2 separate regions of the Homo sapiens genome follow, and region 1 is linked to region 2. The links come from fine-mapping of genetic effects on gene expression. A gene starts in region 2. The other region holds a variant in brackets. All regions are shown on one strand. Distances are between the middles of the regions.

Region 1 (15,326 bases), 27 kb after region 2:
CGATAGAGCAGCCATATCTCTGGGAGGCATGGCACTCCCACAGTCTCTGGAGTGGGAGACCCTGCTCAGGGCACCAGGAGGTGAGACTCCACACAGCCGTGTGGTGTCCCTGAACTTAGATCCTCCTTCTAGCTGTCAACACTTCTTATATACCAGTGCAACGGCATAAACCCCTGAGTCCTTTCCAGTCCCCAATCCCAAATTCCAACAGGACCTGCAACTGAGGCCCAGCGGTGTTGACTCAGGATGATAGCCAAGCTAGGGAAGAGGTTAGAGCCCCCGGCGAGGAGTCCAGGCCATTTTCCACTGCTGCACTTACCACCCGGCTGAGACCCCGCCAGGAGCCCAGAAGTGAGCGCCAGCCACAGCTGCTCTCCAGTGGCTTCTGCCCCTCTGCACGGCCCCTTCTTTATAAATGACAGCTATTTCCACATCCTGTGCAGGAAGGTGACAACCGAGATGGCCTAATTTTACCTGATTACATAGAAATTCAGTGTTCTGGGGAAGCACCTACATTTTCCTGTGATTATCCCTCTGTTCCATCATGATGAGATGACTGTGAACTTGGACATCTCGTCTTAATTTTCTCATGTGTAACTTGGTGAAAAAGTCACATACTTTCTCTTATAATATCCTAAAACAGATGGGTAATATAGCCCAGGACTGAGTTAGATTCATTAATTCGGCTAAGTTGAAATAACCTGGCATTGTGACTGCATAATATGGTCTCAGCCCAGTGATAAAAAAATGGACTTGAAGAGATTCTTCCCCAAGTGTTTCATTTTAATTTCATGTTGATCAAGTTAGTAATTCCGGTCAAAGTGGGAAGAAGCAAAAAAAAAATACATTTCCTCAGTTCATGGTCAATAATTTTGTCCCCATGTGGACATTAGTGCTCTCTGGCTTCTCACCAGGGGGCTGGAAGGCTTCCATCTGATAATGGGCTGTAACGGATGGATGGTGGATTTGCACAGCGTGTAGACGGTAATGGATGGATGGCGGATTTGCACAGCGTGTGGTCCCCAGGGGAGACAGCAGTCTTGTGACTAAGAGGATGGGAGCCTCACAGGGCAGCACAGCTCTCTCAGCTCCTGGAGCGTTTCCGCCTGAAAATAGGCAGCGACTGTGGTTTATAAACGCCCAGAAGGCAGCGTTTCAGCCATCTCCTCTGTTATTGTGTGAGGAACCAGGCAGAGATTTGTAATGACACGAGGACGGGAAGCGAGTCGATGGGTCAGGCCTCCTCCCGGGTGCAGAGCACAAGTGTGGGGCCCTTCTTCCCATAAAAGTGGGGAGGTGCCTGCATCGGCCTGAATTTATCATTCTGTTCATTTCCCAGAAGCATTCATTAACATTAAGCCCTGAGATCGACAGTTAATAATCACTCTAAATAATTCAGATATAATAAATTACAAGCTGTGACTGTGACCTTAGGTAAATATTAAAACAAACAGCAACAATAACAACCACCACCCAAGGACTGTGCTGTTGCTAGTGAGCCTAGGAAACTGTTTGTCTTTCTCAGGAGAGTCCATTTATCTGAGGGATAGAATTCAAATGAACTTCAAAAGCATCCAGAGCGTTTGTAAAAGCACGATTGAGCCGGGAGCAGTGGCTCACGCCTGTCATCCCAGCACTTTGTGAGGCCGAGGCAGGCGGATCACGCGGTCAGGAGATCGAGACCACCTTGGCTAACACGGTGAAACCCCGTCTCTACTACAAATACAAAAAATTAGCCGGGCGTAGTGGCGGGCGCCTGTAGTCCCAGCTACTTGGGAGTCTGAGGCAGGAGAATGGCGTGAACCCGGGAGGCGGAGCTTGCAGTGAGCCGAGATCGCGCCACTGCACTCCAGTCTGGGCGACAGAGCGAGACTCCATCTCAAAAAAAAAAAAAAAAAAGCACGATTGAAAACCAGCGGCTATAATCCCTACAACGGTGTTAACATTTACGTTGGCTGGGGGCCCTGCTTCTTCAGGGCCGTGAGGCCATGCTGACAGCAAGGAAGGCAAACTCGGGAAGCCAGTCCCCCCAGAGTGGAGCCTCCACCCACAACACTCCTCAACAGCGGCCTGGGAGGATCCGCACGCCCCTCTGGTGAGTCAGCACGCAGCTCTGCCTCTTTCGAGGCCAAGCCCTGCACGTTCTAGCCTCACTGGGATTAAATCTGTATTCACATTTTCGTTTTTTATATTATCTGTTTTCCACTCCTCTCTCCTCTAAAACTTAAAATCCTATCTCAACTGAAATTAGTGCTTTTTTGGTACAAAACGTTTATCCTCATTCTCCTTCGGTCCATTTTCAAGGATCATATTAATGCAACAATCAGATAAGAAAGGCCCTTGTAACGCCAAAGCCATTTCAAAGGAGGAAAGAAAACCCTGACCCATTTGGGGTAGGACTAAGAACCAAGTCATTCCTTTTTAAGATGTTTAGTTGTGAATAACAGCTGCCCTCCAAGCTTCCTGGCAGGAAGTTGAACAAGAGGAAGAGGGACCAGTTGGCTTAAGACCGACCCCCTGCAGGGGCCACTAGGCAGCTGCTCCCGGTCCGCACCGCTGCAGAGTGCAGCAGTGGCCCCGTCTGCATCCTGGACCCAGGCCCTCGTGCATAGGCATCGTGCTGGGGAGGAGGAGGCTGCCTCTGGGTTTCCGGCGCTGCTGGCAAGGTCAGGCCCAGTCCCTAGAGTCTGCTGGGCTGGCAGGATGGCGGTGGTGGGGGGCACAGTGCGGCCCCCCTCCATGCTGAGGTGTCCTGAACATATCAAGGAGTGCAGGTGCCGCGCTAGCCACGGGGGCTCAGAGCCCAGGTCCCAGTCTGGCCCCTCTCCCGGAGCTGGGCGTGGCTGTGGGGCTCTTTGCTGCTACAGACCATAGCCACGCTCGCTGCGAGGGTGCCAGGTGCCACACACCTACGTTTGCTTTGCCAGCATTTTCCTTCCTTTTGCTTTTCCCATCCCTTTCTTTCTGAGATTAGGAAGGAAAAGGAAGGGAAGGAAACCTAATCGGGTGACTCGAGGAACTAGATCTTATTCAGTCATTCCAGGACCATCAAGGCAGGAATTATTATTGCACCGACACATTGCTTATAAGGACAGAACTAAGGCTCAGAGAGATTGAGGAAAGGGCACAAAGCTGCCCAACAGGCCAGTGAAGGAGCTGGGCTTTGGGCTGAAGGCTCAGTCTCTCTGATATCCACGTGGATTCATTCACGGGTACCTCGGTCCCCAGAGCGCGGCCTGCAGAGCTGCCTGTTCTTCCCTCCCGGGCCAGCTGGTGCAGGACACTAGGGGATTTTCCAGGCACACAGGCTAAGCACATGTGACATTCGTAGTCTTCATTTGAATGCTACCCTCCCTCTGGGACCCATCGTATTCTGGCATTCCAGGCATGGTGCTAAGGTCCAGGGTGTGCTATGGACATAGCTGAGTGCACACACCTGCACTCTGTCTACCTGCATCCCACCTGAGTCCCACCTTTATCATCCTGCCTGAGTCCCACCTGCATCCCACCTGCATCCTACCTGCATCCCGCCTACATCCTACCTGCATCCTACCTGCATCCCACCTACATCCTACCTGCATCCCACCTATAGCCTACCTGCATCCCACCTATATCCTACCTGCATCCCACCTATAGCCTACCTGCATCCCACCTATATCCTACCTGCATCCCACCTATATCCTACCTGCATCCCACCTATATCCTACCTGCATCCCACCTACATCCTACCTGCATCCTACCTGAGTCCCACCTGCATCCCACCTGCATCCTATCTGCATCCTACCTGCATCCCACCTACATCCTACCTGCATCCTACCTGCATCCTACCTGAGTCCCACCTGAGTCCCACCTGCATCCCATCTGAGTCCTAACTGAGTCCCACCTGAGTCCCACCTGCATCCCACCTGCATCCTACCTGAGTCCTACTTGCATCCTACCTGTGGCTCTGTGCTGGGCTGTAGGACGCCATCTTGGCATAGCAGTGCATGGCTCTGGGTAGAGCATGAGGGATGCCCACCTCTGGTTCTCTCCTAGGATGCACACCGACCTCACCAGTCACATGGACCTTGCCAATCACACCAGTCACGCCAACTCCCTACAGACACCTCTGCCTGGCTTGCATCTCGTAAGAGCTAAATCAAGAGCAAGATCTCAACGGTGCCTAAAGACTGGCAGTGCCCACTCAAGAGAAACCTCTGTGAGTCCCAACCCACACTGTGCAGTCCTGGGTGACAGTGCCGAGGAGCTGTGGCCCTTGTCTTGTGTGTGGGGCTCTGAGGAGCCGTGGCTTTCATGGTAGCATCGGTGTGATGCCCATCAATGCCTTGAGATGTTGTCCCCTCCTGTGCCAGGCAAGGTGGTGCCCATTAGGAACCAGATACCCTGTGTCCAGCTCGTGGGAGTGTGGGTGGCTGAGGCCCACAGGGAGCCTCTGTGCAGTGCCTGGGGTGGCCCTGCAGGGGAGCCCTGCCCAGGTACCACTGGGTCTGGGGGCACAAGCCCCACACCTTTGCCTCAGTGGGGTTGCTCTGAAGTGCCTGCTCAGTCCTGAGCCCCCATGGGAGCTGTCAGGACCACTTGCAGGTACTGTCTTCCTCCCCAGGAGGGGTTCCCCAGAGCCTGCCCCATAGCCTCTTCCTCAGAGTCTTTTTCCAGGAAACCCAAGCATAACAGTTCCAATCAAACCTCATTTATGTGGTCAACCTCTCAGCCCTTCCTGTCCCTTCCACAGCCAGAAAAAGGAGAGGGTGATGGAGAGGCGGGGAGAGTGAGCTGCAGAATGGAGACCCTTCTCACCTGCAGGGGGAATGACAACCTCAGCTCACCAGCTGCCCCCTAAGCTCGGACGATGAGAAACATGGGCTAGGCACAGGTACATGGCTGCAGGCCACACTCACGGCCCAGATAGGCAAAAGTGTATAAGGCAATAAGGGAATTAATTATTTCTTATTAGCTAATGATCATATATTTACCTTTATCTATCATCGATCTATTATCTGTCTATAGCTATTAGCTTTCCAAATCTCTCTTCTATAATATTATTTCTATTTATTATCTACCCATATTTATTATCTTTATATCTATCATCCATATAATCCATTGTCTATTTATCCATCATCTACCTGTCTATAACTATTTATTTTATCTATTATCTATGTATTCTCTATCTATATCTATTATCTATCATCTACCAATCCATTATCTATCATCTTGCTACTATTTACACATAATACATACATACACAACACTTTTGCATTTGTGTAATAGCTCTATTTGTTACAAAAAATAGGACTACACAAAATATAGTATGGGTTTTGGATTTGATTACAATTAAGGTCATGAGAACCCACTAAGAATTCTTGGCAAAATCTTTACAAGCATAATATGTCACTTGATGATTTTGGAAACTATATGATTGAGGTGATATATGCTGTGGATTTAATATTAGAAATTTAAGTTGAACACGTGGTGCTGCTGCCTTAAGTGGCAGAGATAAGATTCAAACCCAGGTCTTCTGGCTCCAAGTGTCATTCTCCTTCCCCCACACAACTGCACTCTTTTTTCTTTTTCTTGTTTTTCTTTTTTTGAGACAGTATCTCACTCTGTCACCCAGGCTGGAGTGCGTGATGCGATCTCGGCTGACTGCAGCCTCTGCCTCCTGGGTTCAAGCAATTCTCCTGCCTCAGCCTCCCAAGTAACTGGGACTACAGGTGTGCACCACCATGCCTGGCTAACTTTTTTGTATTTTTTTAGTAGAGAGGGTGTTTTGCTATGTTGGCCAGGCTGGTCTCGAACTCGTGAGCTCAGGCAGTCTGCTCACCTCAGCCTCCCAAAATGCTGGAATTACAGGCATGAGCCACTGTGCCCGGACTGCACTCAAAATAGATTTGGATTTAATTAACTGGAAATGCCCAATTTGGTGGTGTACAGAATCGAGGAGCTGCCTCACCAGGGGCAGCCTCCATCCAGTTACCACTTGATGCAGGTTGTAGGGGCACAAAACTAGCCTTGCCTCAGTGGGGCAGCTCTGAAGGGTTTCCCGGCCCCCCAGCCACCCCTGGAGGTTGTTACCCAAAGTGTTGCCCGAGGACCAGCAGCAAGGGTGGCATCTGTGAGCTCATCTGAAACGCAAACCTCAGGCCTCACTCCAGACCCACTGAATCAGGATCTGCATCTTAACAAGACATGGTTCAGGCCAAAAATAGTTTCAGATCTACTTTCCATTCCTGAAAGAGTGCCCAAAAATAGACAAAGTAAAGTATAATAATAACAACAGTACCAGGGTTTTTTGGCATCATTTTTGAAGAATATTGTTTAGTGCAAAAAATAAAAATATAAAAGTAAGGCACAAAAAGCAAATTACAAAGTTTGGCTTAATTTAAATGAAAATTATTTGACTCTTACCTACGTGCTCGTCGTTCTGACCTGCCATAATCTTTGCTTGGTTGGAATGGTGTCCTTGCAGTAGGAGAGACTGCAGAAGTAAATTATTAGCTTTTTAAGTTCTGTGGAACAAGAAAGGGAAGCTTAAATATGATGAATACCTGTTGCCATCGTGCCTGAAGTATCGATGAAGTCTAATCTTGCTTTGGGTTTTGACTCAAAGCAACTGGAATATTCAACTGCTTTATAAGCTAGTGAAAGTGGGCTGCGTAGATGCGATTACAGGTTAAGGTTGTAAGAACAATCAGGACCTCAGAAGAGATTCCTTTTCCCAGTTACTCAGAATCTACATAGATGAAGTTTTAAAAAGCCTGTTAAATGTAGATATTCGCTTGGCTGTGGGAGAGGAGGGTAATTGGCTTGCAATTTGTTTTATCATGACATTTCCACTCTGGCCTTCCATTCCCCAGAAACTGAACTCAGTGACGCTCTTGGAAGAAGTGACCTCATCATGACAAAATCCAATCCCTTATGCACCACCAGCTCAACCATAAACCCAGGAGTCATCCCTAATTCGCTTTTTTCCTTGCCCTTTGTGCCACAAAGCCATTTTGTCTCCACCTCTAAACTTCTCTCCAGCCCCCTTTTCCCTTCTGATGCACGGGCACCCATTTCTCCCTAGACTGCCTTCTTCAGTGTTCCTAAACAGCAGATACCTAGTTCACAGGCCTGCTTACACAATGGTCTCCTAATGTTATTCTTCACACAAATGTGTTTTTAAAGTCTGTGAGAGAGGCCGGGCACAGAGGTTCACGCCTATAATCCCAGCTCTATGGGAGGCCAAGGCAGGTGGATCCCCTGAGGTCAGGAGTTCAAGACTAGCTGGGCCAACATGCCGAAATCCCGTCTCTACTAAAAATACAAAACTTAGCTGGGCGTGGTGGCAGGCACCTCTCATCCCAGCTACTTGGGAGGCTAAGGCAGGAGAATTGCTTGAGCCCTGGAGATACAGGTTGCCGTGAGCCAAGATCGCACGATTGCACTCCAGCCTGGGTGATAAGAGTGAAACTCCATCTCAAAAATAAATAAATAAATAAATAAATAAATAAAGTCTATGAGAGAAATTTGATTAGCCACTCTTTCACAAAGTATGAAGAAGAAACTGTGAGACAAACTAAATAAGAAAATGATGCTATTAAGAAATACTATTGGAATGATTGACCAATTCCTTGTCTGTGTCAGGTTTTGTGTATAAGGCATGTCTCTCCCTTTAAGGAGTCTGCAATCGTGTTACTGGGGAAATGACTTACTAGAATGCAAGCAAAACAGATTATAATATAAGATACTCAAAACCGGGTGTCAGTTATGTAAAAAATAACCTATATGTGGTGGTCCATTTTTAATTTTAAGTGTCTTAGTATAGGTTTAAGCAGGCTATGTGGAAATAAAGAGATAAAGAAGCAGAATGTACTGAGCCACCCCTGCCCCCATCCTGCTTTCTCCTTTCACTTGGCAGCCAGGTGCCTATCGGTCAGGGCCCCCTTAAATACCCCCTCCCCACCCCACCGAAGAATTTAGTTTAGGCTAGCTTGCAACATAGATAATTTTATCCTTTCTTATCAGCAAAGCACAGCCATCTAGGGCCATACGTCAAATGTTCGAAGAGTCCTGAGACAGTCACAATGCATTATGGGATGCAATAAAATGCAGCAGAAAGACCCTAATGAACATACTCGAAAACTTAATCCAACTACCAATATTCGACGTCCAGGAAGATTGTAACCTCGTAGTACTCAGCCAATGAGGAACTGGGGGAGGGACTTGTGCACTAGGGAGTAAATTTCTTGTTGAAGCCCTTCTGGGTGTGCCTCATGCCAGACACCCAATCTTGCAAGACTGCCATTAAAGTCTCGCTTCTTCTGTTCTCTGTGTCCCTGAGTCCATTCTTTGGGTTTGGATGGATAAGGATGTTTCTTACAAGTTAGAAAGAAATTTCTCAATAAGACTCTGAGAGCTTCCTGCTATAGTGCTGGAATTGACATGAGGGTGATTTTGTTTTTTTATTTTAATTTATCTTAAATTAATTAATTTCTTTCTACAAGGGTGATTTTGAAGTCTCCTCACTGCCGATGGTTTTGTGGAAACTGCACAGCGAGGAGGGTAGAGATCTTACTCCTGAAGAGCTGGGAGTCCGGGCTTTGAGGCAGATTCTGTGTTTCTTCAGTGTGTATGTCCTGAGGAATTAGCCACCCATCTGCCACAGGGCCCTGGGGGAGAACGCTACCAT[G/A]TCTGAAAATGCCAAGGTGGCTGTCCCGTGGAGTTAGCTGTTGTTATCGTCTGTGCTTCGTGATAGCAGGAAGCTTTTTCCCCACTGTGCCCTGCAGCCTCTCCACCTCCTTCCCTTCTCCATTAGTCATGTGAAGACAGAGGGAGCAGGAGGGAAGTTGCCCCAGAGTCCAAGGCAAAGTGCATCAAACAGCCCCGGGTAGTCGTGTTCAGTTTAACTCTGCAGTTATTCCTGAAGTCTTAAGAACTGAATCCTGATACTGCTTTTCCCGTCTTCTTCAGATTCACTCCTGCCCCAGTTCTCTTTGTTGCTGAGAAAATGTCTTCCTCTGCTCTGTAGGATAATATAATACGTTTCTGAGAAAAGGAGCCGTGTCCTTCAGGAGAGGGGTAAATTACAAACGTTACAAGAGATTCGTACATGTTTCATCTCCCCTTTCTTATGGTCACTCAGTAAAATGAGATAACAGTCATGAAAGTTCTGTTATGTGCTCTGCCTAAACCACTGGCCAATTCAGCCCCAACCAGCCCAACTTAAGCTATTGAAGTGGGAAGATTTGGGAGACTGTTTCAATATCCTTATTTGAGTCAGCCTGTTTTTCTGTGGGCCAGAATAGGACATCACAACATGAGATTCAGCTTCTAGACAGGCAGGACGTGTCCTCCATGGATCCCAGCTCCCACAGCCAGGTCCTGTTCCCACTGTGGCTTGGGAGGACATCCCAGAAGCAGAGCCCACGTAGGCCTCCAGCACCCAGCAAACTGCAGGACAAGCTTGGTTGCAGAGTGAGTCAGGCCTTCTTAAACCCCTGCTCTTCCTGACTTGGGCTTCAGGAGACAGGACATGGTTTTGGAAGAGCCATGAAGAGCCACAGTACTGCTGAGTGGAAACAGCCTTCTTCTCTGGCTTAAGGGGAAACCAAGAAGCTTTTTGCTCTGGCTGGCTGGGAGGGCAGGGGGTTGCTGATGCCTGGACACTTCACGGAGGGACACACCCTGGGGGCCTCAGCCCCACTGAAGAGCCGCCTCCATAGACCGTGGCTGTAGACTGGGTCCTGGAGCCACTGGGTCCTGGAGCCACCAGCTCCTGTCCACATGGGGTCTGCAAAGGGAAGCTCCAAGCCCAAGCTGATGGAGAGGCAGAGCCTCAGTCCATCTCAGGGTTTCCAGACCTTTGTGATGAAGCAAAGCTTTTCCCAAACATGATTTCACCCCAAACCCCAAAGTGTACAAGCAGATAAGCACAGAAAGCTATTGTAAAAGTCAGAAAAGGAGGAGGGCTGTGAGAGGGGCTGACGGTCCCCTCCAAATTCTGCCATTGCAGCCTCGACCCTCAGGCCCTCAGAACATGACTGCATCTGAAGAGGCGATTCAAGGTAGAGGACACTATCAGGGGGCCCTCTGTGCCTGTCTCTGCCCTAATTTCCTCTTTTTAAAATTATTATTATTATACTTTAAGTTCTGGGCTACATGTGGAGAATGTGCAAGTTTGTTACATGGGTATACATGCGCCATGGTAGTTTGCTGCACCCATCAACCCATCATCTACATTAGGTATTTCTCCTAATGCTATCCCTCCCCTAGCCCCCCACCCCCTGACAGGGCCCAGCATGTGATGTTTCCCTCCCTGTGTCCATGTGTTCTCATTGTTCGACTCCCACTTATGAGTGAGAACATGTGTTTAGTCTTCTGTTCCTGTGTTAGTTTGCTGAGAGTGATGGTTTCCAGCTTCATCCATGTCCCTGCAAAGGACATGAACTCATCCTTTTTTATGGCTGCATAGTATTCCATGGTGTAGATGTGCCACATTTTCTTTATCCAGTCTATCATTGATGGGTATTTTGGTTGGTCCCAAGTCTTTGCTATTGTGAATAGTGCTACAATAAACATATGTGTGTATGTGTCTTTATAGTACAGTGATTTATAATTCTTTGGGTATATACCCAGTAATGGGATTGCTGGATCAAATGGTGTTTCTGATTCTAGATCCTTGAGGAATAAGCACACTGTCTTCCACAATGGTTAAACTAATTTGCACTCCTACCAACAGTGTAAAAGCATTCCTCTATCTCCACATCCTCTCCAGCATCTGTCGTTTCCTGACTTTTTAATGATCGCCATTCTAACTGGCGTGAGATGGTACCTCATTGTGGCTTTGATTTGCACTGCTCTAATGACCTGTGATGATGAGCTTTTTTTTCATGTTTGTTGGCTGCATAAATGTGTTCTTTTCTTTTTTTTTTTTATTTTTTTTATTTAGACAGAGTCCTGCTCTGTCGCCCAGGCTGGAGTGCAGTGGTGGGATCTGAGCTCAATTCAACCTCCACCTCCTGGGTTCAAGAGATTCTCCTGCCTCAGCCTCCCGAGTAGCTGGGACTACAGGCATGTGCCACCACATCCAGCTAATTTTTTATATTAATACTAGAGATGGGGTTTCACCATGTTAGCCAGGATGGTCTTGATCTCCTGACCTCATGATCTGCCCACCTTGGCCTCGGCCTCCCAAAGTGCTGGGATTATAGGCGTGAGCCACTGCTCCTGGCCATAAATGTCTTCTTTTGAGAAATTTCTGCTCATATCCTTCAAACACTTTTCGATGGGGTTGTTTTTTTCTTGTAAATTTGTTTAAATTCCTTGTAGATTCTGGATATTAGCCCTTTGTCAGATGGAGAGATTACAAAAACTTTCTCCCATTCTGTAGGTTGCCTGCTTACTCTGATGGTAGTTTCTTTTGCTGTGCAGAAGCTCTTTAGTTTAATTAGATGACATTTCTCAATTTTGGCTTTTGTTGCCATTGCTTTTGGTGTTTTGGTGTTTTAGTCATGAAGCCTTTGCCCGTGCCTATGTCCTGAATGGTATTGCCTAGGTTTTCTTCTACGGTTTTTATGGTTTTAGGTCTTACATTTAAGTCTTTAATCCATCTTGAGTTAATTTTGGTATAAGGTGTAAGGAAGGGATCCAGTTTCAGTTTTCTGCATATGGCTAGCCAGTTTTCCCAACACCATTTATTAAATAGGAAATCCTTTCCCCATTGCTTGTTTTTGTCAGGTTTGTCAAAGATCAGATGGTTGTAGATGTGTGGTGTTATTTCTGAGGCCTCTGTTCTGTTCCATTGGTCTATATATCAATTTTGGTTCCAGTACCATGCTGTTTTGGTTACTGTAGCCTTGTAGTATAGTTTGAAGTCAGGTTGCGTGATGCCTCCAGCTTTGTTCTTTTTGCTTAGGATTGTCTTGGCTATACGGGCTCTTTTTTGATTCCATATTAAATTTAATGGGATTGCTGGGTCAATCCCATTAATTATGGGATTAATTAGATATGAGATTTAATTAGTTTTTTCTAATTCTGTGAAGGAAGTCAATGGTATGGGGATAGCAGTGAATCTATAAATTACTTTGTGTAGTATGGCCATTTTCAAGATATTGATTCTTCCTATCCATGAGCATGGAATGTTCTTCCATTTGTTTGTGTCCTCTCTTATTTCCTTGAACAGTGGTTTGTAGTTCTTGAAGAGGTCCTTCACATCCCTTATAAGTTGTATTCCTAGGTATTTTATTCTCTTCATAGCAATTGTGAATGGGAGTTCACTGATGATTTGGCTCTCTGTTTTTCTATTATTGGTGTATAGGAATGCTTGTGATTTTTGCACATTGATTTTGTATCCTGTGATTTTGCTGAAGTTGCTTATCAGCTTAAGGAGATTTTGGGCTGAGATGATGGGGTTTTCTAAATATACAACCATGTTATCTGCAAACAGAGACAATTTGACTTCCTCTCTTTCTATTTGAATACGCTTTATTTCTTTCTCTTGCCTGATTGCCCTGGCCAGAACTTCCAATACTATGTTGAATAGGAGTGGTGAGAGAGGGCATCCTTGTCTTGTGCCAGTTTTCAAAGGGAATGCTTCCAGCTTTTTCCCATTCAGTGTGATATTGGCTGTGGGTTTGTCATAAATAGCTCTCATTATTTTGAGATATTCCATCAATACCTAGTTTATTGAGAATTTTTAGCATGAAGGGGTGTTGAATTTTATCAAAGGCCTTTTCTGCATCTATTGAAATAATTATGCATTTTTTTCCATTGGTTCTGTTTATGTGATGGATTATGTTTATTGATTTGCATATGTTGAACCAGCCTTGCATCCCAGGGATGAAGCCGACTTGATCGTGGTGGATGAACTTTTTGATGTGCTGCTGGATTTGGTTTACCAGTATTTTATTGAGGATTTTTGCATCGATGTTCATCAGGGATATTGGCCTAAAATTTTCTCTTTTTTTGTTGTGTCTCTGCCAGGCTTTGTTACCAGGATGATGCTGGCCTCATAAAATGAGTTAGGGACAAGTTCCTCTTTTTCTATTGTTTGGAATGGTTTCAGAGGGAATGGTACCAGCTCCTCTTTGTGCCTCTGGTAGAATTTGGCTGTGAATCCATCTGGTCCTGGGCTTTTGTTGGTTGGTAGGCTATTAATTACTGCCTCAATTTCAGAACTTGTTATTGGTCTATTCAGGGATTCGACTTCTTCCTGGTTTAGTCTTGGGAGGGTGTTTGTGTCCAGGAATTCATCCATTTCTTCTAGATTTTCTAGTTTATCTGCATAGAGGTTTTTATAGTATTCTCTGATGGTAGTTTGTATTTCTGTGGGATCAGTGGTGATATCCTCTTTATCATTTTTTATTGTGTCTATTTGATTCTTCTCTCTTTTCCTCTTTATTAGTCTGGCTAGCAGTCTATTTTGTTAATCTTTTCAAAAAACTGGCTCCTGGATTCATTGATTTTTTGAAAGGTTTTTCGTGTCTCTATCTCCTTCAGTTCTTCTCTGATCTTAGTTATTTCTTGTCTTCTGCTAGCTTTTGAATTTGTTTGCTCTTGCTTCTCTAGTTCTTTTAATTGTGATGTTAGGATGTCGATTTTAGATCTTTCCCCCTTTCTGCTGTGGGCATTTAGTGCTATAAATTTCCCTCTAAGAACTGCTTTAGCTGTGTCCCAGAGATTCTGGTATGTTGTGTCTTTGTTCTCATTGGTTTCAAATAACTTATTTATTTCTGCCTTAATTTCGTTATTTACCCAGTAGTCATTCGGGAGCAGGTTGTTCAGTTTCCATGTAATTGTGTGGTTTTGAGTGAGTTTCTTAATCCCAAGTTCTAATTTCATTGCACTGTGGTCTGAAAGACTGTTATGATTTCCGTTCTTTTGCATGTGCTGAGGAGTGTTTTACTTCCAATTATGTGGTCAATTTTAGAATAAGTGCAATGTGGTTCTGAGAAGAATGTATACTCTGTTGATTTGGGGTGGAGAGTTCTGTAGATGTCCATTAGGTCTGCTTGGTCCAGAGCTGAGTTCAAGTCCTGAATATCCTTGTTAATTTTCTGTCTTGTTGAACTGTCTAATATTGACAGTGGAGTGTTAAAATCTCCCACTACTATTGTGTAGGAGTCCAAGTCTCTTTGTAGGTCTCTAAGAACTTGCTTTATGAATCTGGGTGCTCCTGTATTGGGTGCATATATATTTAGTATAGTTAGCTCTTCTTGTTGCATTGATCCATTTACCATTATGTAATGCCCTTCTTTGTCTTTTTTGATCTTTGTTGGTTTAAAGTCTGTTTTATCAGAGACTAGGATTGCAACCCCTGCTTTTTTTTGCTTTCTATTTGCTTGGTAAATATTCCTTCATTCCTTTATTTTGAGCCTACGTGTGTCTTTGCATATGAGATCAGTCTCCTGAATACAGCACACTGATGGGTCTTGACTCTGTCCAATTTGCCAGGCTGTGTCTTTCAACTGGGGCATTGAGACCATTTACATTTAAGGTTAATATTATTTTGTGTGAATTTCTTCCTATCGTGATGATGCTAGCTGGTTATTTTGCCCGTTAGTTGATGCAGTTTCTTCATAGTGTTGATGGTCTTTACAATTTGGTATGTTTTTGCAGTGGCTGGTACTAGTTTTTTCTTTCCATATTTAGTGCTTCCTTCAGGAGCTCTTGTAAGGCAGGCCTGGTGGTGACAAAATCTCTCAGCATTTGCTTGTCTGTAAAGGATTTTATTTCTCCTTCGCTTATGAAGCTTAGTTTGGCTGGATATGAAATTCTGGGTTGAAAATTGTTTTCTTTAAGAATGTTGAATATTGGCCCCCACTCTCTTCTGGCTTGTAGGGTTTCTGCCGAGAGATCTGCTGTTAGTCTGATGGGCTTCCCTTTGTGGGTAACCCAGCCTTTCTCTCTGGCTGCTCTTAACATTTTTCCTTTATTTCAAGCTTGGTGAATCTGACAATTATGTGTCTTGGAGTTGTTCTTCTCAAGGAGTATCTGTGGTGTTCTCTGTATTTCCTGAATTTGAATGTTGGCCTATCTTGCTAGGGTGGGGAAGTTCTCCTGGATAATATCCTGAAGTGTGTTTTCCAACTTGGTTCCATTCTTCCCATCAGTTTCAGGTACACTAGTCAAACATAGGTTTGGTCTTTTCACATAGTCCCATATTTCTTGGAGCTTTGTTCATTCCTTTTCATTCTTTTTTCTCTAATCCTGTCTTCATGCTTTATTTCATTAAGTTGATCTTCAATCTCTGATATCCTTTCTTCTGCTTGATCTATTCAGCTATTGATACTTGTGTATGCTTCACAAAGTTCTCATGCTGTGTTTTTCAGCTCCATCAGGTCATT
Region 2 (15,326 bases):
TGGCACATGCTCCTGGATGGCAGCCAGGCCTGGCACTCAGCGGAAGCTCGGAAACCTGTTGAGGGGTGAAGCCTGGGTTCCTTCCTCAGAGGGATCCTCTGGAGCGGGACTTGCTCAGGACAGAGGCGGGTGAACTGCCTTGGATGGGGCCGGTGTGAAGCTTTCTGGTTGCTGAAGACCTGGGTCCTGTGGGGAGACAGGGCTGCAGGCTGCTGGGTGGGGCTGTAAGAAGCCTCTCCACCCACCCAGGGTGCACCCTCCTAATATCCAGGGACACCCATGGGGCCGGCTTTTCTGAAGCTCCGAGTGAGGGTTGCATCGTCCCGGTCTGAGGTGCACGGCCTTGAGCAACTGGCTGATGATCAAGGACGGGGAGGGGGTCAAGTTTTGGGCAGTCTTCCATTTTAGGGTCAATTTAGCTTCCACAGCGGGCACAAGGCGAGCTGAGGGGATGGTTGTGTTATCTGTGGGTGCACCTGCAGCATTGAGGAAGCTGGAGTGGGAGGGGAGGTGGCCTGCGGAAAGGCCTGGACCTGCCCCTCACCTGGCGTCTGGCCTTGCTTCCTTGCTTTCCGGGGTCTCCTCACTGCAGCTGAGCAGGGAATGGGTAGCAGCAGCAGCTCTCGAGTGCCAGTGCGTGAACCGTTGGGGAGGTTTCCCAAAAATGCACGTTCCTCGGCCTTCTCCCCAGAGACCCGGCCCGCCTGCCTGGGCATGTAGAGACCTTGCCTTTCCAGCTGCCTCCCAGGGGAGCCTCATGCTCCAGACCAAGGGTCACAACTTTGACAGCACATGACCGGGTCACCCACCAAGGCCTCCTCCAGGTCCGGCTGGCCCCAGCCTCTGACCCCACCACCTTCCCCAAGTCACCCTCTTGCCTCACGGGGGCTGCAGCTGGGGTCGGGGGCCCCAGGGCTCAGGCTGCTATGTCCACCAGGCCCCGGCGGGAGGTCTCCCTGACGGCCCCCAGCTCAGCCTCGTCTCCCAGCGCTCGCTGGAGGACCAGCCGGAGGGGCAGCCTGCGGCCCTGGGCACTGCCCAGGCAGAAGTAGACGACGGGCTTGGCCGCGCAGTGCACGGCGGCCATGAGGAAGCTGAAGTGGTAGAAGTAGTGGGGGATGTACCAGAGCAGGTTCCGGGACAGCCAGTAGATGCCGAAGGGCAGGCCGCAGAAGAGGAAGAGGAGGACGGTGAGGAGGATGAGCCCAGGGAAGCCCCGGGGTGGGGGCCGCTGGGGGCCTCGCTCCACCCGCAGCAGCAGCATAAGGCTGGCCCCACACATGGTGCAACACAGCAGAGCCAGCAGCACCGCTGCCACCAGCCACAGCGTCCGGCACAAGTGGCGGCTGGGCTCCCCGAAGAACTGGGTGCAGGCGCCGCTGAGCAGCAGGTGCAGCAGCAGGCAGAGGGCCCAGGTGAGGGCGCACACACAGGTGGTCAGGTGGCGTGGGCGGCGGCACGAGTACCAGGCTGGGAAGAGGGCGGCCAGGCACTGCTCCACGCTGACGGCCGCCAGGAGACTCAGGCCCACGATGTAGCAGAAGAAGCGCAGCGTTGCCAGGCTGGTCTGCACGAAGCCCGGGAAGTCCAGCCGGCCTTGCAGCAAGTCGGGGACGATGGCCACCATGTGGCAGCCAAGGAAGATGAGATCCGCGCAGGCCACGTCCAGGAGGTAGATGGCGAAGGGGTTTCTGTAGACATTGGAGCTGAGCAGCCAGAGGACTGCCCCATTCCCCAGCAGCCCACCGAGGCCGAGCCCCTCGGTGAGGGACAGGATGATGAGGTTGAAGGCCACATCCTCCTGGGCGCCGTTGGCGGCCCCCACGTGCTGTCCAGCTTCTCTGGGCTCCATCATGGGGCGGGGGGCCAGGGGATGCTGCAGGAGTGTGTTCTGCTCGCTCTCTCTCCTGATGCCCCTGTAAACCACAACAGTTGAGTCTGGGGCTCAGGAATCCATGCCCCCTGCTCCTCCCCACATCAGGGGAGATGAGAGTTGGGTGGGTGACCAAGGGAATGGTGAGACCCTCCAGGAGAAGACCCCTCTCTCATTTCCACCCTCAGCCACCTGACCTAAGCTTCTCTTCCCTAAGACACTCAGGAGGAAGGTGTCCCCATTCCTCCCCTCCCCATGGTTACCTGGCCTCAAGAGCCTTCCGTGGGGCTGGTCCCTGTAGGCCAGGTGGGGGCAGGGACCAGGAGATGTGGGGAGAGGGTCTGAGACCCATGGGGCTCCCTGTTGCTAGTGGTGCCTTGATCCTCAGAATGGGCTTTTTTTTTTTTTTTTTTTTTTTTTTTTTGGAGATGGAGTCTGGCTCTGTTGCCCCAGGCTAGAGTGCAATGGCACCATCTCGGCTCACTGCAACCTCTGCCTCCCGGGTTCAAGTGATTCTCCTGTCTCAGCCTCCCGAAGAGCTGGGATTACAGGCGTGCATCACCATGCCCAGCTAATTTATTGCATTTTTAGTAGAGACAGGGTTTCACCATATTGGCCAGGCTGGTCTCGAACTCCTGACCTCGTGATCCGCCTGCCTTGGACTCCCAAAGAATAAAATATGACTTATTTTAAAGTCATAGGCAGAGCAGGAGGCACCGCCCATGTCTAATGAGTGGTGTGACCACAGAGGGACAGCTTACAGTGGCTGTGGGGCTTTTCGTCATCATCTTAAAGCAGCCCTCAACTCTTTGAGGCCTTTCCTTGACATCCATGAGGGGTTGTTTGCCAGTGGGCTCCCAGTCCCCAGCCCTCCAGCTTGGTCACACCATGCAGCCACATCAGGGCCACAGGAAAACTCCCTTTCCCCTGGCCATGTCCCTGCTGTCCTACAGCAGGACTCCAGCCCTCTGCAGGGTAGGGGGCACATGAGGAGGCTGCATCCTGCTCAACGTTGCCCGCCCTTTCCCCATGGGGAGAAGAGGGAGCTGTCTGATGATGGGGCTGGGAGGGGCCCTGAGCTTCCATGGCGTCTCCAGCCTCCCTCCATCCCCTCCCAAGGCAGTCGGCTCACGGGGACAGGTCCTGCGGGAGGGGTACTGAGTCCTGGGAGGCAGCACAAATCCCAGGGGACCTAGGCTGGAATCGGAGTCTTCATCACAGCTTTGCCAGAAATACAGCAAGTAATAGACTCTAGGAGACTGCCAGGTGCTCAGAGCCGGAGACATGCCTGCAGATACCCGGCCCCATGCTGCCCCTGTGGTTACCTGGCCCGTCATGTGTCTCTGAGTGCTTGGTGACCCCAGCTTCTCCTCTTGGGGTTGGGGGAGAGGGGATGGGGCCTTGCCTCTCCCCAGAGACTGGCTGGGGTCAGGGGCCGACACCAGGTGCCCCTCCCACCTTGGTGGTGGCTGGTCCTCCTGTGTCCTGGGAGGGCTGGGGTTTGGGGTGAGGAGGGTGGGGGTACAAGCAGAAACCCCCATAGCTGGTCTTAGCGGCTTCTTCCCACCTCAAGGTTGTGCTCAGAACCCCTGCTGTCTCCCTCCAGTGATAGGAGCACCCGAGACCATGCAGGGGGACGCTGCGGTGCTGGGATGCTGGGGAGAGGTGGCCCGGGGCGGGGCTATCGCTGAGCACAGAGGTGCCAGCCACCCCGTGAGGTGCTGGTCATCTCCCTCGGCTTACACCCTCAGCTCTGTGGTCTTTTGTTTGACTGGGGTGAAATGACAGCCTGAGGTTGTCCCCGCCTCAGGGGTGGGCATGGGGGTGGGGGGCTCAGTGGAGAGGAGGCCCCAGTCCCAGCACCTCAGGAAGCTGAGTCCTGCCCGTGGTCCAGTCTGAATCTCCTGCGGGTGGAGTCAAGCCTGGTTGGAGATATAGGGCTCTTCCTCCTGTCCCTGTGCTCCATCCTAGCACCCAAGGCCCCGGGAAGGCAGACCATGGGTGGGAGGTGAGGTGGTGGTGGAGGGAGCCCCACCTGGGCCAGCATCATCAGGAGGACACCCTGAGTGGGGCAGACGGGGCATCACTGCCATGGCAGGTGGGGAGATGTGGGGAGGGGGACAGATGCTCTCCTACTCAGGATAGCTTGGGGGGGTCACCAACCCTCAGGCCCAGAGGGAGGCAGAGATGAGTTTTGGGAGGTCTTAAGTCTGTTGATGGTGGACCCCCTCCCAGGCACAAGTCCCGTCCACCCATGGACGGAGCTATCTCCGGGATCTACCAGCAAGCTCCAGCCCCAAAGCAACAGGTGGGGTTTCTCCAGCCTGTGGCCCACCAAGGGCCATGGTCCCTCTCCTATCTCACCTCCTGCATGGCTGAGGAGGACACGGGCCTCATGGGTGGGCCCCAGGGAGAGAGCATGGCAGGGAAGCGATGGACATAGAGGGAGAGGGGAGAGTGCAGGAAGGGGAGAGGCATGAAGAGATGGGGGACAGAGAAGGAAACAGGGAGGAGAACAGGGGGACAAGGGGTTAGAGCCACGGAGCTCAGCCAGACCCTGCTGCTGCCCCCTCTCTGCTGTGACCCTGGAGGAGGTCTCCCTGTGGGACCATGTGCCCCACTGGGGGCTCGGGAGGGAGGCAGAGCTCTGTAGGAAGGGTCGCCACAGTTGGGTTACAGGACTGTGGGGAGTAGAGGAGTTTGTTGCATCCTTGGTGAGCAGGAGGAAGAGGAGAGGGAGGAGAAGGAGGGGAGGAGGCGGGGGAGGACGATGGAAGAGAACAGGAGGGAGGAGGAGGAGGGGGAGGAGAAGGAGGGGAGGAGGCGGGGAAGGACGATGGAACAGAAGAGGAGGGAGGCACAGCATTCCCCATCCCTGGGTGGTCCAGGAGTGGCTCTGTGTCCCGCCCAGACAGCCAATACTGAGAAGCCCTGAGGCTGAGCACCCAGGTGTGGCAGGGAGGAGAGGGCCTATCCCCGGCTGCCCCCATGACTCCCCTTGAGAGTCTGCACCTGCAGGGAACACTCTAGATCATGGAGGAAGCAAGGCAGACAGGAGACAGAGCCACCGGGGGTGGGGGGTTGGGGAGCCATCACCCAAGCTATCGTCCTCTTCCAGACTCAGCCCAGGGCTGGCTGCGGACCAGGTGGTGCGGCCCGTCAGAGGGCGGAGGCTGCAGCCTGGAGAGCTCCCTGTTGATAGCATCTGCTGTTGCCCACGCCCCACCCCTGCCACCATCTGGCCAGCAAAAGAGCCCAGAAAATGCCGAGCGCCTGGGCCGGCCCCAGAGACCCACCCTGATCCAGCCACCTGCGCTACTCACCGTTTGGGGCAGAGGACTGGCCGAGCCCTGCCTGCTCTGACCCTGGGCCTTGGATCTATCCTGGCCGCGGCCGAGGGCTCCAGTCCCCAGAGCCTCTGGGCGGCTCCTGTTCAGTGTCCACCAGCTCCTCCGAGTCACATGGCATCCAGCTGGAATGGGGCCGGTCAGGAAGGTGTCTCTCTGAGGACCCCTTCTCTTCCGCTCAGCTCTCGCCCAGGTGTGGACAGCAAGAGAAACCCTGAACCTCCCTGCAGCCTTCCAGGCAGGCCTGGCAGGCAGAGGAAACCACGAGATCTCTGGGTGGAGCCCAGCCAAGCTGTGACTTCACTGGCACTCCTGGCTCAGAGACACCAAGCCCTGTAGGGCCCTTTAGGGACCACTTCTTTCCATCTGTGCCTCGGAGGGGCCGGCTGAGAGCCGGGCTACCGGCGGAACTTGTCCTTGCAGCAAAAATGTGTTTTTCTCTCCGCAGAGCACAGGCTGCCGGCCCCAGCTCTCCAGGCAGTGTGGGACCGCGGGGAGGAGCGGGGATGTGCGTGAGGCCGTCCCTCCTGCCTCGTTCGCAGGCACAGAGTAGATGGCCGGTGTCAAGAAGCTGCCGCGCGGTCCCCGGCCGAGGAGAATCAAACACATACAGCAGCGTCAGGCTCCGGGAGACCTCGTGAACTCAGTGATTTCAAGTCCCGTTTCAGACCGTGCCTTTCCTTCCAGTGCCCTGCCTTAAGGGAGATCGCAATTGACGTGCCAAGAGAAGGAAAACAAGGTCATTTTTTGGCCTCTGTTCCTCCCCGAGTCCAGGCCCTAGCAACTCTTTTCTCATCTTTGTCTTTAGAAAAATCTCCGAGGTAGAGAAGAGTGCAGAAACAGCACGGATTTGCTCCGGAGCGTTTCCCACTCTGCGCAGTCCGCCTGACCTCTCCTCTTGCGGACCAAGTGAGAGCAAGTTTCCCGCACGTGGCCTTTGACCTGTCACTACATCAGCAGGCATCCCCCAGGGCACCGGCATCCTCCATCCCCAAAACGGAGGGGCCGCACACAGGTCGTCTGGCGTCTGTGCAATGCTGGTGTCTGATGAATGTGTCGCGCTGGTGTCTGACGTCCATGCGGGGCTGGTATCTGACAGGCAGCAGTGCCGCTTGCTGAGTTGTGTCTCAGCTTCAAATCCTCCCTTCCTAAACCAGGATCCGAGCTGCCAGGTGCCCGAGGCTCTGTAAACCATGCCTGGGCTCTGCCACCGCTCTGGGAGGCCCTACCAGTGGGTGGTCACTCAAGGATGGCCCAGGGGTGTGGGGGAAGTGCTCCCAATCGCCCCACACGTTCCAAATATCTCACCCTTCTAAGTGCCACACTCCCTCCAGTTGTCCCACAGTTCCAATAGTGCCACTCCTTTCAATTGTCCATCCCACCCTTTCATAAGTTCCATGCCTTCCACTTGTCTTACACCTTAAAGCTGTCCCACCCTTCCAAATGCCCGACCCTTCCAATTGTCCCACTCCTTCCAACTGTCCCACTCTTCCATTTGTCCCACTCTTCCATTTGTCCCACTCCTTCCAATTGTCCCACTCTTCCAATTGTCCCACTCCTTCCAATTGTCCCACTCTTCCATTTGTCCCACTCCTTCCAATTGTCCCACTCTTCCATTTGTCCCACTCCTTCCAATTGTCCCACTCTTCCAATTGTCCCACTCCTTCCAATTGTCCCACTCTTCCATTTGTCCCACTCCTTCCAATTGTCCCACTCTTCCATTTGTCCCACTCCTTCCAGTTGTCCCACCCTCCAATTATCCCACCTTCCAATTGCATTAGCCTTCCAACTGTCCCACCCTTCCAATTTTCCCACTCTTTCCAATTGTCCCAGCCTTCCAATTGCCTCATCCTTTTAATTATCCCACTCTTTTAGTTGTCCCCCTCCTTCCAATTGCCCCATTCTTTCCAATGGTCCCACTTTTTAAATTGCCCTTCCCTTGCAATTGTCCCCCTCTTTCAATTGACCCACCTTTCCAATGGTCTTACCTTCCAATTGATCCACCTTTCCAATGGTCTCACCTTCCAGTTGTCCCACTCCTTCCAGTTGTCCCACTCCTATCAATTGTACTGCCTTCCAATTGCCTCACTCTTCCAATTGTCCCACCCTTCCAATTTCCCCACAGTTTTAATTGTCCCACTCTTTCAATTGTCCCACCCTTCCAATTGTCTCACCGTTCCAATTGTCCAACCCTCCCAATTGTCCCACTCCTTCCAATTGTTCTACCTTTTTAATTGTCCTACCATTCTAGTTGTCCCACCCTTCCAACTGTCCCACTCTTCCAATTGTCCCACCCCTCCTATTGTCCCACTCCTTCCAGTTCCCCTACCCCTCCAATTGTCTGACTCTTTCCAATTAGTCCATCTTCCTTTATGTTTTCGAGCTTCACTTTCACTCCCTGTCAGAGTTGCCCCAGCAACTCTCTCTCTCTCTCTTTTTGAGACAGAATGCCACTCTGTTGGCCAGGCTGAGGTGCAGTGGCATGATCACAGCTCACTGCAGCCTCCAACTTGCAAGCTGAAGCATTTTTTCCTCAGCTTCCTGAGTAGCTGGGACTTCAGGCATGCACCAAGTGCCAGGCTACCAGAGGCTTGTCTGGCTAATTTTTAAATTTTTAACTTTATAGAGATAGGGTCTCGATACATTGCCTAGGCTTGTCTCTAGTTCCTGATCTCAAGCAATCCTCCTGCCTTGGCCTCCGAAGGTGCTGGGATTATAGCTGTGAGCCACCATGCCTGGCCCGCAGCAACTTTCTCCACCTTGTAGCAGCAGTGGACTTCTGCAGTTTTCCCAGCACTTGAAAAACCAGACCCATTGTTTCCTGTTGGAGACACTGGCCACTAACTGGCTGGGAGCCCCCTCAGGGGCCTGAATTACACTCTAGTCGTCCCCACTGGTCCTAAATTTCAATAGTTTTAACTTCCTTCCTTTGTTCCCCGTGCCCGGGGTGGCGGCTCTTTTTGCAGTTGTTTCTTCTCTAATACCTTAGTGTTCCCTTTGTACGTGTTTGGTTTTTCAGTCTCTAGTGAACAATTCTTTAAGATCATCCCTTCAAAATTATAGGTAGCTTCTGCCTACTGACTGTGTCCCTGCTGGTACTGAAAGGTCCTAGGGGAAACATGGTAATTTAGGCTTGGTTTGGTCATGTCCTTGGCCTTGACTGTCGTGATGAGTTTCTGGTCAGTGACACTGGTGATCCATGCCACTCTGTGGCTCATCATCAATCAAACAAGCACTTGTGATGGGTTATGTTGAAGTCAGTGCCTTGGGGGACCATTTGCCTATTGGACTTGATCATCATAACATTCATGGGGACCAGGAGCACTGTGGCATGTGACAGGATTGGAGCTTCAAGAAAGAGGATGACGACTTCTACTTCTGGTTCTAAAGGGGCAATAGGGGCTGGAATCACCCTCCCATTATAAAAATCTAAAAAACCAAAACACGGTTTGTGAATTTAGACAACAGGCCGAGCAGGACTGTGGTCCCAAGAAAATGGAAGCTGATGGGCACGCCCTATGCTCACCCAAACTTTCTGTCTGGAGGTGGCTTCCGGACTGCAACACAGGCCAGAAGAGGCAAAGGGGCTCAGCAGGTTAAATGCCAAATCAGGAGAAGGTTGAAAACAACACAGGTAAGACTGGCAGTCAAGACAACAGCAAATGGACAAGCTGTAGAGAAAAGCAATGACATCAAAGGTGTTTTATTTAAGATGATTAATAAAATGGAATAACCTTGGATGGACTGATTAAGAAAACAAAAAGTGCTTGAGCTCAGGAGTTCGATACTAGGATACTAGCCTGGGTGACATAGCACAATCCTGACTCTACAAAAAATACAAAACAAACAAACAAACAAACAAAAAAAACAAAATTGTCTAGGTATGGTGGTGCATGTCTGTGGTCCCAGCTACTCAAGAGAGGGAGGCTGAGGTGGGAGAATGGCTTGAGCCTGGGAGGTTGAGGCTGCAGTGAGCCAAGATCAGGCCACTGCACTCCAGCCTGGGTGACAGAGCAAGACCCTGTCTCAAGAAAAGAAAAAAAAAAAAAAAGAAAAGAAAAAAGAGAAACTGCAAATCACCTATATATTGGTAACGAAAGAGGGGATACCACTACCGGTCCCAGATACTTAAATGGTAAAGGTGGAATGTAAAAATAAACTGTATGCCAATAAGCTTGACAATTTGGATGAAATGGTCAAATTCTTTGAAAGACACAATGAAAACATGAATAGTTCTCAATATGAAAACAATGAGCTCGTAATTTAACACTTTCTCTCAAATAAGTCTCTAGTTCCAAATTGCTTCACTGGCAAATCTATAAGATAGACAAAAAATAAATAATCCCAACCCTGCAAAACTCTTTTAGAAAACAGGAGTAAGGAACATGCCAATTCATTTTAGGAGGCCAGCATTAATCTAATAATCTGATATACAAACTGGACAAAGACATTCTAAGAACAAAAAACTACAGACCAATATTGTCATGAACATAGGCTCAAAACACTTCATATAATATAAGGAAGAATTGTAAGCCATTTGAGTTTATCTTAGAATGATGAAGGATTTATAAGGTGTAACTGGGGTTTTGCTTTTTTTAAATGTGAGGGAATTTATATCAGTTGAATTGTTTGGACTTTTTCCTGCTTTTTCTTCCAGAACCTTTGTATAGATGAAGACTATGTCTCTGCATTTTTGTGCGTAAGGATGGCAAGATAGAGTGGTTTAAAAGATGCCAGTTTATGAGCTTCTTTTTTGGTCAGTCTTGGAAAACATAATTTTTTTTAGAGCAGGGTGGGGGGCATACAGTGAGAGAAGAGAATTTTTTGTCCTGCAAACTTTTGATTTTTTTCGTCTTGCAAAATACTAGCCCCCTCCCTTTTCCTCTACTGTATTGTTTCCAAAGAAGACTTCTGTCTTCCTCTTGAGCCTTTTCAAAAGCTTCCTAGAGTTCTCCCTCATCATTTAGCCATTGCGCTGATCTGCCAATTATTGAGAAAAAGAGTCAAACTCTAAAATATTTGAAGAGATTCATTCTGAATCAATTATGAATAACCAATGGCCTGTGACAGCCCCAGGGGATCCTGAGAACATGTGCCCAGGTGTTTGGGGTGCAGCTTAGTTTTACACATTTTAGAGGGACAGAAGACATCAATCAATACATGTAAGATGTACATTGGTTCAATCTGGAAAGGCGGGACAACTCCAACAGGGGCTTCCACATCATAGGTGGATTCAAAGATTTTCTGACTGGTTAAAAGAGTTATTATGTAAAAGACCTGGAATCAATAGCAAGGGATACATGGCTTAAGGTAAGGGGTAAAATACTTTGATTTCTATCAGGGCCTGCTATCTGACATTACAGCGGTATCTTATGGCTACGAAGGGTCTGTTTTGTCAGCCTTAAGTTCTTGTTTTAATGTGAATGCTGGTCAGCTGTGCCTGAATTCCAAAGGCAGGAAGGTATGAGGCATGTCTGACCACCCATTCTCATCATGGCCTGAACTAATGTTTCAAGTTTACTTTAGAATGAATGCCCTTCCATTCAGTTGGTTGGGGAACTTGGAATTTTATTTTTGGTTTATATTCTCCTCCTCTGGCCAAGACTTGCCAGAGGCAACATCAATGGCCACCAAACTTTTATTTTGTCCCATAGCGTTACTGGGTGTTTCGGCTGCCTGTCCTGGGTCCATTGTGACCCTCAGTGGGACCCCTATGGCCAAGGGGCTTAGAGTCAAAAGACTCACAGCCAATTTAAACATTCTAGGCCAGAAGGGAATGGAGGTGGATGGGCACTCATCAACCCTTAAAATTCCACCAAACTGTTTGTATATGTATAAATATGTATACACACACACACACAAATACATACATATGTATATATATAAATTTATGCAGATATATCTAATTGTATAAATCTCATAACTGGGAGTATTATACCCAAGAGGCTTTGTCATGAGGTGTCTTTATATATTCTCAGTAATTTTCTTTGAATTCTATGGAAAACAGTAAATTCTTTATGGTTGAGATGGATGAAAACAGGCCACATAATAACCCAGGAGGCAAAGTCCCTTTTTTTGCCACTGATTCAGGCATCTCTGCCCAACCTTGATTTGGAGGATCTGAATGAATTCTGTCTCCCTAAATTGGCCCTTACAATCTCACATGCCTGCCTCATTTGTGACAGTCGTGGGCCTAGAGGAAGAGTGCTGGTATAATTTTAGCAGCAGGTATTTGCAGTGAAAAACAGCTCGGGCCCAGTGAGATGCCAATGAGGGAGAGTTGCACCTCTATTTTTCAGAATACCATATTCTGGTTTCCTCGGAAGTAAAACAAAGAGAGATAAACAACATTAATAATTTGACAATCAAAAGAGAATGTGTGTGTCAGAAGAGAAAAAGGAATCTATTCCATTAGGGCACTGACTAAAAGCATCACGAAGAAAATGATAACCTGGCTCATCTTTAGAGGATTATTATAGCCAAGAAATAATTCATGATTCAATCCACACTAACAAACAAAAGTCAGGGCTGGAATCTAGTAATGGGTGTAGTATAGTTTTCCTTTGAAAAAATTTCCCTTTCTCTAGCCTTCCTTTTCTACTAAAGAGAAATTGTAGTAAGACCAATCTGTGTGCAAAACAAGTTTTAGGCTTATTATACTTCCCTGATTATAAAGTGCAGCAAGAACCAATTGGCCATACCGGCCCCTTTCAAGTTGACTTTGCTGGAACTTTACCTAAAAATATATTATTCCAGTCAAAGCCTTGGTAAAATAACCAGGGTCTCCAATTGTGTCCCATTTCAAAAGAAAACATTCTTACTAAACCTATGCAAACAACTAAATGCCATAAAATCAGAATATTCGCTAATAGTGTCTGAATTTTGAAGAATTCAGATAGAGAGAAAGGTACACTTACTCATAAAAACTTACTTTACCCGATTGCTCTAAACTATAAATAACTCAAAAGAAGAAGCTTTCCGGCCGAGCGCGGTGGCTCACGCCTGTAATCCCAGCACTTTGGGAGACTGAGGTGGGTGGATCATGAGATTAGGAGTTTGAGACCAGCCTGGCCAATATGGTGAAACTCCGTCTCTACCGAAAATACAAAAATCAGCCGGGCATGTGGGTGTGTGCCTGTCATCCCAGCTACTCGGGAGGCTGAGGCAGAAGAATCGCTTGAACCTGGGAGGCGGAGGTTGCCGTGAGCCGAGATTGTGCCACTGCACTCCAGCCTGGGCGACAGAGCAAGACTCCGTCTCAAAAAAAAATAAAAAATAAATAAAAATAAAAAAATTAAAAATTAAAAAAAAAAAAAAGAAAAGAAAAAGCTTTCCTTGAGTCTTCCTGAACCAGAGCAGCAGCTTCCAAACAAGATGTCGTGTGTTCGCCTTGGAGCTGTCATACGCTAAGCAGCTCTTGTCAGTCAGATGAGAGCCGTCAGGCACTGTAGAACCCAGCAGCTCCTCACATTGAGTCATTCCTAGGGGAAAAACAGGCTCCCTGCTCCTGAGTATCTCCTCCTTGCATTCCCCAGGCAGCCATATCCTATATAAACCATTTTTGTTTTACCATACAACTCTTTTGGGCACCATTGATTCCATTAGCATGGGGTTAGCTTCACTTAACATCCCACAGCAAGCCAGAAAATGCCCCTCAGGTGGAAATTCTCGAGTCCAAAGTCCCAGCAGTTCATTGGGAAGTGCTCACAGCCTTTTGCCACAAGCCCCAATGAACACTCCACGGAAGACTATGAAGTGGAGGTTTTGTTCCAGCTCGCACTCCAGCTTCTACTCTATATTCTGTGGGCTCAGGCAATCTTACCAGTTCCCATTTAGCGTGTCCAATTAACATTTCTCCAAGGGCAGATTTACATACCTTCAGTTTTATAGTACTAGGTGGGAGAAACATTCCCCAGTCAGATATATAAATCAAAAAGTATCTGGAACAAATCTCAATCAATTTAGAAGTTTATTTTGCCAAGGTTAAGGACATACGCATGACAGCCTCAGGAGGTCTTGATGACATTTGGCCAAGGTGGTTGGGCTACAGCTTGGTTTTATACATTTTAGGGAGACAAAGACATCAATCAATACATGTAAGATATACATTTGTTTGGTCTGGAAAGGCAGCACAACTCAAAGTGGGGACTTACAGGTGATAGGTAGATGCAAAGATTGTCATATTGTCTATTGGTTGAAAGAGTTTATCTAAAGATCTGGATTCAATAGAAGGGACTGTCTGGGATAAGATAAGGGTTGTGGAGACCAATGTTCTTTTTTTTTTTTTTTGAGGCAGAGTCTCACTCTGTCACCCAGGCTAGAGTACAATGGTGTGATCTCGGCTCACAGCAGCTTCCACCTCCCAGGTTCAAGTGATTCTCCTGCCTCAGCCTCCCCAGTAGCTGGGATTACAGGTGCGAGCCCTCACACCCAGCTGATTTTTTGTATTTTTAGTAGAGATGGGATTTCGCCTTGTTGGTCAGGCTGGTCTCGAGCAGGGTCCTGACCTCAGGTGATCTGCCTGCCTCAGCCTCCCAAAGTGCTGGGATTACAGGTGTGAGCCATCTCGCCAGGCCAAGACCAAGGTTCTTATTATGCAGATGAAGCCTCCAGGTAGCAGGCTTCAGAGAGAATAGATTGTAAGTGTTTCGTATCAGCCTTAAGGGGTCTGTTTTTTCAATGTTAAGGTCTCTGGTTTTTTCTCCTTTTTTTTTCCGAGATAAGATCTCACTCTGCCACCCAGGCTGGAGTGCAGTGGCATGATCTCAGCTCACTGCAGCCTCAACCTCCCAGGCCCAAGTGATCCTCCCACCTCAGCCTCTTTAGTAGTTGGGACTACAGGCATGTGCCATCACAACTGGGTAATTTTTGCATTTTTTGTAGAGATGGAGTTTCACCATACTGCCCAGGCTGGTCTCGAACTCCTGAGCTCAACTAATATGCCCACCTTGGCCTCCCAAAGTGCTGGGATTACAGACATGAGCCATTGTGGCTGGCCTAGAATTTTATTTTTTGTTTACAGATACAGTACCCATTTTCATAAGGCGTTTAGGTAAAGGAGTCACAACTACTTTACATAAACCTGTTTAAACATCTCAAAATTCATAATTCTATCATCCCTCACATTCTTATGTTCTGGTCCCAGGATTTTTTCTTCTCTACCCACAGACTATTTTACTTTTTCTGGTGAAAAAAGATTTGGGTTCCCAGCAGGGGATTGAGCCAAGGGACTCAGGCCCTTTTGTGAATCTTAATCTCATTTTTCCTTAGCATTGCCCTAGGCAATGTCAGCTTCTCATTATCACCTTTGCCTTTTGATTTTTCTTAAATTTCTCTAATCTGGGGCAAATGCCAAACAATTGGTATGGGGCCCTTTAATGTTGAGAGAGTGGTAGGAACTCCCTTTGGTCCATCCAAGCTTTGATAGTGTTGTAAAGATCTTTGTTTTAACTCCATGAATTTTCATTTTGTTTATTTCATTTTTTAATAACCATTGGAAGATTTCCACTCTTCTGGGATCAGTCCCCTGACTCCCTTTTGCATTTCCCATTTTTTTTTTGTTAACTATCTTAATGTTTTATTAGCATCTGTGAGACCCATGAAGGATAGCAAATTTGAAAAGGCTTCTCAAGACATTGTTCGATTCTGCAGAAGTAATGTCACCTGGGGTGCCCATGGAGAAGGGGTCCCCTTAACCACAGCATCTACTGTGACCTGAGTAATAGGCACATTCAGTGGGTGAATATCTGGTCATCACAAAGTCAGTCCCATATGACTTGTTTAAGAAGCATATCAACTGCTTCCTCTGGGGTGATCCACTTGGTATTTTATAGGGAAAGTTGGGCAGTCCTCTCAGGGTAAACAGCCCTTACAGTGGTGTTTATCAGGTCCACTAGGCTGGTCATTCTCTCAGCAACAACCTTCTGTGCATTTGGATCACATATACTCATCAGCAATTATCTAATAGTGAGCTGTGGGTCTACATCAACTCAAAGATGCTCTTTCATTCTGTAGCATTTGAAATTAAGGGTACTATCCTTAAAGCAGTTACTCTTACAGTCCATTTTAGTAAAGGTTTCTTAGGAAGCTGACGATACCAATCTACA

Direction of the effects. Positions count from the first base shown, and alleles are read on the strand shown. Sizes are in standard deviations (SD) of each study's normalised expression.
For the expression in spleen of the gene that starts at base 5,473 in region 2, allele A in region 1 goes with a higher level than allele G (large effect, 1.1 SD a copy in GTEx).

Evidence for each region. PIP is the estimated chance that this variant, and not a neighbour inherited with it, causes the effect.
Region 1: its variant is the best candidate, but not a certain one, in a credible set for the expression of MRGPRE in spleen (GTEx, PIP 0.84).

What each region holds. Positions count from the first base shown.
Region 1 is chr11:3,253,942-3,269,267 of GRCh38, forward strand. No RefSeq gene overlaps it. Among named protein-coding and RNA genes, the nearest start is that of MRGPRE, 29 kb to the left of the region's middle. RefSeq lists an enhancer at 697-1,338. The variant G/A (reference allele first, on the strand shown) is at 8,672.
Region 2 is chr11:3,226,945-3,242,270 of GRCh38, forward strand. MRGPRE (MAS related GPR family member E) reads right to left here and starts at 5,473. Exons shown (of 2, transcript NM_001039165.4): 1 at 5,197-5,473; 2 at 1-1,916. The coding sequence starts at 1,855. The coding sequence ends at 917.